Homo sapiens: one gene and its partner. The protein of the gene in region 1 purifies or fractionates together with the protein of each later gene. This does not show direct contact. Each region holds a gene or a part of one and is shown on either strand. Other genes may lie near its edges.

Region 1 (4,098 bases):
AGGTCTAGGAGACATAGATGCATAGGTGGATTGGATACATCGATGGTAGCTATAAGGTAAGCAGACAATGGTCACAGATGGAAAGGTGGACGGACGGATGACGGATGGTTAGAAGATGTTTTGAGGGCTTGCTATAGTGCCAGGCACAAGGCTAAGAGATTTCGTCCACTATTTCATTTGATTCTCTCCAGAACCTTATGAATGGCATATTACCTCTGTTCCTATTTTTCAAATAGGGAAACTGAGGCCTCAGGCAATGTAAGCAGCTTGCCGCTTAGCAATCTTTTGCAGAGCCAGGAAGCGGGAAAGCGTGTCTTAATGGACAGTACCAGCCTCCACAGTGTGCCCTCGGCCCCCTCCCGGTGGAGAAGAGGTTCCAAGCCCCGGCGTCCCGGGTAGGGTGTCCCTCATCCCTCCCTCCCCACCACACTCCTGGCGCGCTGACATTACACCCGCCCCGGCACCCCCCTCTCACTGATCCAACACCCCCGGACACCCTGGACAGCGCTCTCAAGGCAGTAGGTCTTCGACTTGGGAGCCCCGGGGAGCTGGTTAAACACGGATCCTCTCCCACAGTGGCTGAAAAGCGCGCAGTCCCGGAACCTGAGGGTTTACCTGCTTCTACGCTTGGCCAAGGGTCTCTAACTGGAAAGGTGAAAATTCTGTCCTGAGATTTTAAGATTCCCAGAAACTTTCAATCGTTCAGTTCCTGTAACCATTAATTGAGCGCCTAAACTGCGCACCTTGACGCTGTTAGATGCTGCAGTAAGGAACTCGGAGTCAAGTGTGGGGGACAGGTTGGTCAATAAATGACGACATTCCGGACGGCTGTGCTTGGTGCCCACGGGGACCCGCGAGGGGGCCCAGGGAGGAGGCGGGAAAGGGGCAGGTTCACCGGCCCGCTGGGTCTCCAGCACATTCCAGAAGTCTAAGCCAGTCCATCTATCCTTCCAAACGCCCCCACCTCGCTTCCCTCCCTGGAGCCCGCATCCCACGGTGCAATTTCAGTGACTTTATGCGGAGAAACTTGATCCTATCTCACTCTCCCCAAACTTCCTAACTGCCTTGGGTTTGTCACCTGGCCGTGTGGGGAGCCACCGAGCGCCCCCTGTGGCCCCCACCCGAGCTCGGCGGGGGGAGCGGCGCGCGGGTGCTGGGGGACCGACCCCTCCCGCGAAGGCGTCGGCGCGGGGCTGGCGTAGGGCCTGCGTCAGCTGCAGCCCGCCGGCGATTGGGGCGCGCGCGCCTCCTTCGGTTTGGGGCTAATTATAAAGTGGCTCCAGCAGCCGTTAAGCCCCGGGACGGCGAGGCAGGCGCTCAGAGCCCCGCAGCCTGGCCCGTGACCCCGCAGAGACGCTGAGGACCGCGACGGTGAGGCCCTACGTCCGCCAGCACACCCGGGCCCGCTTCTCCCCGACGCCCGCCCTCCTCACACTTGCCTTCTTCTCTTCCCTCTAGAGTCGTGTCTGAACCCGGCTTTTCCAATTGGCCTGCTCCATCCGAACAGCGTCAACGTGAGTGAATTTGCCCGAAGCTTGTCTTTGCTGAGCGGGTTTGGGGACGTCTGCCCGCCCTCTTTCCCTTCACATTTCATTGCATGGGTTCCCCAACAGCGTTCCCTGGTTCTTCTTTGTGACCCCAGTCAATGTCCTGCCTCCCCCGGCTCCCGCTCTCTCGCCCCTGGTCTGCGGCGTTCTCTCCGGAATCTTGCCCTGGGCCGCGGACGCCCAGGAAAAGAGCCGGGTGCCCCAGGCAGCCTCGCGTTGGGGGCGACCGCGCCATCCCGGGAACCGCGAGGCGATCTGAGTCGCCTCCACGTCTACCTAAAAGCTGTCGGCCGGGAGGGCGGGGCCCCAGAAAGGAGCATTCCTGCGGGCTTTTGCTCGACGATCCCCTGCTGAGGCTGTCGCGGCGAGGGTCCTGCCGAGGGACCCCGTTCTGCGCCCAGGCAGGCTCGAAGCACGCGTCCCTCTCTCCTCGCAGTCCATGGCGCGGTTCCTGACACTTTGCACTTGGCTGCTGTTGCTCGGCCCCGGGCTCCTGGCGACCGTGCGGGCCGAATGCAGCCAGGATTGCGCGACGTGCAGCTACCGCCTAGTGCGCCCGGCCGACATCAACTTCCTGGTGAGTGTTGCGCGCGGCGAGTGTTGCGCACCTTGTGAGACAGAGTTTCCGCAACAGTACGCGGACTGCCTCCGGCCCACCGCGCGGCGCGTATGGCGGTTCGCACCGGGTCGGAGCCGCAGCGGCGCGAGCCCGTGGTGACCTGGGTGTCTCAGCTGTTCCTGGAACACTGACTGAAGTCCTGCCCTGGCTCTTAGCTTCGGGGATCCGCGACTATCTGGGGACCGGTAAGGGTAGCGGTGTCGCCGCACAAACCAAGTTTGTTTTAACCCTGGGAATTCGGGAACCCCGAGAAGTCCTCTGTTCAGCACCTCGGATAGCACTGGGTTCTCTCCTGGGCTGTCAGAAGGAAGATGGCTGTCACCACAACTCCTAACATATCCCAGCTAAGGGCCCCTCCACACGCAGTCATCTTCCCATCTTTCCCACAAATAATGTAATTTTTTGTTAGTGACATTTCGGTGCCTTTCTTTAGATTTATGTTCCCCAGCTCTCTTAACCTCAGGTCCCTCATTCCCTACCCTCACCTGTAAATAGGAGAGAGCAAAGGGATGGAAAAGGGGTACGGGGAGAGGAAGGCGAAATAACCGTAGACAGGAAAGAGTTCAAACTGTCTCACTAGCCAGTGATGCTGGAATTCAACTTCTGTTTCAACTGCCCTTTGTAATAGTAACTAAAACAACAGTTTAATTTGGCTATGAGAAAGGAACAAGAGAAGTGGCCAGTGTCCAATGGGTGACAACAGTCCAAAGATACACTGCACTACAGGGGGTTGGGGAAAGAAAAAGCTGAGGACAAAATAACTTTCATTCTGATCATGGTTCCCCATGGGCTGTCGAATCACCTCTGGTGCTCTACTGAGTCTGAATCTCCAACCTCGAGACTCAGGTAGCTTCACTTTTACCAGCTCCCCTGACAATTCCTTTGCATTGCTTTTGAAATTTGTTGAAATTTTATGGTGACTTAAAAAGCTCATAGAGAATAATGTATTCATCCAAGCTGCTTTGGGTTCCACCTGGAATTGAGGAAATTTTACCTTATGTAGATGTTTGAAATGGGGAGAAAACCAAGGAACAGTTTCCAAATATCTGTGGTATATATTTCAGGTTAAATGTTTGTTTCTTTGACCTGTGCTAACTTGGCATTAAAGAGAAGACACATAGGAAGGTTGTATATTTAAACTATGAGAAAAATGTTTCATCTTCAATAGGAGAAACAATCCCCTTCACCCATCTTTCTTCTTTCTCCTGTAGTCATGAGCTTTTAACCTATGCCTAAAAATTGAGCCAGTGCTACAAATATAAGGATAGATCTTGTGGATAAAGAATTTTAGACACAGAAGGAGGAAGAAAAATCCAAAACATGCCACATAGAAGACTCCACTTTCTGACCCCATAATTCCCTGTGCCCAGTCACACATATTTTGAGCTTTGCCTGCTCAACATGTCAGGGGCTCAGCCCCCTCCCCTAGCTTTCTCTGCCATCTGAATAAAGGTTATATGGATTCTAGTCTAATTTTTCTAATCACACAGACTGACCCCAAAGTAGTATCATATTTACTTAAATTATGTGAGTTAGCGAATTAATATGACTGACTTTTAATCATGCCTATTCAAATGGGTTTTTTTCATACTTAATCTATTTGATTCACCAAGCTCCCAAAATGCTACTAATCTTCCTTTTGCATTGTTGAGGAACTTGAGCAGAGCTCACTGGGTAGCAGCTAGCTCTTCCCTGGGTATCACCTCAAATCTTGACTTCTCTCCCTCTCTCACCCTCTTCTCATCATGTAACAGGATTGTGGGGGAGGAGAAGAGGAAGGCTGCTCTTTCCAGAATTTTCCATACTGCTTTTTATGCTCTTGTTGTTATCACTTATTACTATTATCATTACTTTAATCCAGGTGATGGAATGGCACGTGTAGTGTTAGCAACTTGAAAAAAATAGATAATAAGCAACCATCAATAAAAATAG
Region 2 (3,500 bases), on another chromosome or scaffold:
ATTATTTGTGTAATATCTGTCTCCCCCAACAACACTCTAAACTCTACAATGACAGGGACTCAGTCTAGCTTGTCAGAGTAGCCTCAATACCGGCTATAGAACCTGCTTTATATATGCTGAGCGTTCAATAAGTTCTTGATGAAAAAGTAATAGAAGATATTTCTTGTGCCTCTCAGTTCTGTCATCAGTTGGTTCCGTTCCATTTGTTTCTCTCACAGTCGGGGGTGATATGTGTGTGCACGCCTACCTCAGCGGGCAGCCCTTGGAGGAATCACAGCTGAGCATGCTGGCCTGCTTCCTCGTCTACCACTCTGTGCCAGCTCCACAGCACCTGCCACCTATAGGACTAGAAGGTAATTGCATATCTAAGTCTTATCTTCAGTAACTCTGTTACCTACCCCTTTATGTTCTAGTTTCTCAGTAGTTACTGCCCCTAGTTTGACTTTCCTCTTCATTAATGTTGCAGTGTCATTGTTAGGGACTGTTTTGGAGCAAAAAAGAAAAAATTATCAACTTTATATATGAATAACTTTCATTTTTATTCAGAAAAGGATGGATTCTTCTTCACAGAGCCCCAAACACTGATCTATACTAATAAACTAAATATTCCATATTATTCTTTACTAATTGATTTTTTTATTAAAGCTATTTTTCTTTATTTTCTAGGTTTTCAGTTGGGTTTTTTAGAATCACATATAATCTTAATTTCTAATATTACAAAGCTTTACAACTAATAAATACCTAATTTTGTGTTTGAATTTTTTTATAATAGTTTTAAAAATTAATAGTATTATCACCTGATTGTATTTTTCAGAATATAGAAACAGATAAAAAAAATTTATCCATTAAGCTGAATACTAAGATATGATGAATTCTAAGCACCCAATTTTTTTGAGATTCTCAAAAAAAATATTTTTTGATAAGGGCAAAGATTGTTCCATTTAATCATTTAAACTTGAAGTTTAATTACATTACTAGTTTTTTGCTGTTTTGCAAGCCTCTGATAAAAGTTTACTATCTAGAGACTTCTGGTTATGGCCATGATGGAATTGCTTGTATTGGACTCACTTGCCCTCAAAAACAAATATAAAAGCTAAAAAAAAAAAATAAGAAAAGGGAAGTACAACAGGGAGAGCTTTATATTCACCCTAGCTTCTCCCCCAAAGGCATTTGCCAGTTCATAGTACAAGAAGTAGAGTGCCAGCAAAAAGCAGCAATGCTGCAGGGCTGAGGAGCCAGAGGTTGGGTTTGTGATTGCCCAAGAGCCTAGAACTTGAGGAACACAGTCTCAGGCAGGAGAGAACAATAGAAATCATAACTCAGACTCTGGATATACCTTTCCCTTGAGTTACTTAATGATATTTTAGCCTTCATATACATGGGATAAGACTTCAAGAGATCTAGCAGAAGCCACAAGGCCAAAAATGTAAGCAAAAATGTCAGCAGCAGCATAGGACTGAGGAGACAAAGGGTGGAATTCAACGCTTGTTAAAGTGAAGTGGCTCTGATCAGCATCCCAGCTCCTCAGGTGAATTAATACATGGCCAAGCCCTAAGCCTGCTCTAGCCTAATTTTAGATCTGGTCTGCTTCAGTTTCACTCCAAGCAGACTTGACCTACAATTAGCCTAGAGCAGAACTAAGGTGATCTGTGTGCTTTCTCCCCACCTGACAGAAGAAAATGTAACCTTCATAGGAGAAAGAAAACATACCCAGAGCCCCCGCAATTTTTAGTCTACAGGATTCAGTGTTGAATCAAAAATTACGAAACATAATAATAATAAAAAAACAGATAATAGAAACAGACTTATGTGTGATTCAGATATTGGAGTTATCATACTGGAACTTAAAATAACTATGTCTAATGTTTCCAGGAAAATAGAAGGAATGATAGGGAATTTCACCAGAAACCTGGGGTCAATAAAAAAGAGTTAAATGGAAATTCTAGAACTGAAAAATATAGTAACTGAAATGAAGATCTCAGTACTGGATTATTTGAAGTGAACTGGAAGACACTTATCTGCTGGAAGACAAGTAGAAAGTAAACAAACTGAAGCACAGAGGGAAGAATGGTTAGGAAATACAGAGAAGAGTACAAGAGACATGTGGAAACCGTGAAAAAAAAATAAACATGCATGGGGTTGGAATAAGAGAATAAGAGGAGAGAAAAAATGAGTTAGAAGCAATATTTGAAGAGACAGAAGCTAAGAATTTTGAAAAATTGTGTTAAATATTAACCCACAGTGAACCCTAAGCAGGATAAATACAAAGAAAACCATACCTAGTCACATTAATAGTCAAACTACTAAAAGGAAAAGGAAGACATTTTAAAAGTATAGACTTCTTTTCAGGCCAGGCTGGACAAACAGGGTTGTTCAATGGTCAACTGTATTAGAACCAGTAAAATACCACTTAGATAGTATTTGAAGGTAGACAGGCACTTTTGCACATTATATTTAAAGAATTTATATATATATATATATATATATATATAAAATTAAACAATATTAGTAGTTTCACATGTAGTTATAGGTCACTTTCTGAAGTCTAGAATGGGTAAATTCTATCAAATCATATACAGGTTTGAGTATCCTTAATCTGAAATCTGAAGTGTTTGAAATCGAAAACGTTTTGAGCACCAACATGATGCTCAGAGGAAATGTTCATTACAGCATTTTGGATTTGGGATTTTTGGATTAAGAATGCTCAGCCGAGGCTGGGCGCAGTGGCTCACGCCTGTAATCCCAGCACTTTGGGAGGCCGAGGCGGGCGGATCACGAGGTCAGGAGATCGAGACCATCCTGGCTAACACGTTGAAACCCCATCTCTACTAAAAATACAAAAAAAATTAGCTGGGCGTGGTGGTGGGCACCTGTAGTCCCAGCTACTCGGGGGGCTGAGGCAGGAGAATGGGTGAACCCAGGAGGTGGAGTTTGCAGTGAGCCGAGAGAGCGCCACTGCACTCCAGCCCCGGTGGCAAAGTGAGACTTCGTCTCCAAAAAAAAAAAAAAAAAAAGAAAGCCAGTAGGTGTAATGCAGATATTCCAAAATCTAAAAAAATCCAGAATCCAAAACACCTCTCTTCAGAAGCATTTTGGAAAAGGGATACTCAATTTACATTACAGTGTATTAAGGAATTTCATAATTTTAAATATTGTCTTTGCATAGTCATTTTCAAAGGGAAAAATGCCTGTTTTAAACATGATTGTGTTTCTGAAGCTTCCTTGAAAGGAGAGGTATGGCTGAATTTATTTAGAGATGTGACCTTCCCACCCCATTTCCATTTTAGGGAGCACAAGCTTTGCTGAACTGCTCTTCAAATTTAAGCAGCTAAAAATGCCAGTGCGAGCTTTGCTGAGATTGGCTCCTTTGCTTCTTGGAAATCCACAGCCAATGGTGATGTGACCGTGTCTGGCGGTGAACCTACCCTGAAACGTGACTTCTGCACAACAAACGTGACCAAACATCAAAGCTAAAGCAATGTTTATAAAGTTTTATGGTA

What was found. Proteins that work in one complex are often made in the same cells at the same time.
Region 2: the proteins of PENK (region 1) and ANAPC1 purify together in Homo sapiens (affinity purification with mass spectrometry; 3 studies listed by BioGRID and IntAct, with this or other methods). This does not show direct contact.

The regions. Positions count from the first base shown.
Region 1 is NC_000008.11:56,443,842-56,447,939, reverse strand, and holds the start of PENK (proenkephalin-A preproprotein), read left to right. Parts: upstream 1-1,298; 5' UTR 1,299-1,371; intron 1,372-1,439; exon of another isoform or gene 1,440-1,458; 5' UTR 1,459-1,514; exon of another isoform or gene 1,515-1,983; 5' UTR 1,984-1,986; coding exon 1,987-2,124; exon of another isoform or gene 2,125-2,133; intron 2,134-4,098.
Region 2 is NC_000002.12:111,769,194-111,772,693, reverse strand, and holds part of ANAPC1 (anaphase-promoting complex subunit 1), read left to right. Parts: intron 1-218; coding exon 219-353; intron 354-1,559; exon of another isoform or gene 1,560-1,633; intron 1,634-3,287; coding exon 3,288-3,403; 3' UTR 3,404-3,500. UniProt on the Homo sapiens protein: Component of the anaphase promoting complex/cyclosome (APC/C), a cell cycle-regulated E3 ubiquitin ligase that controls progression through mitosis and the G1 phase of the cell cycle.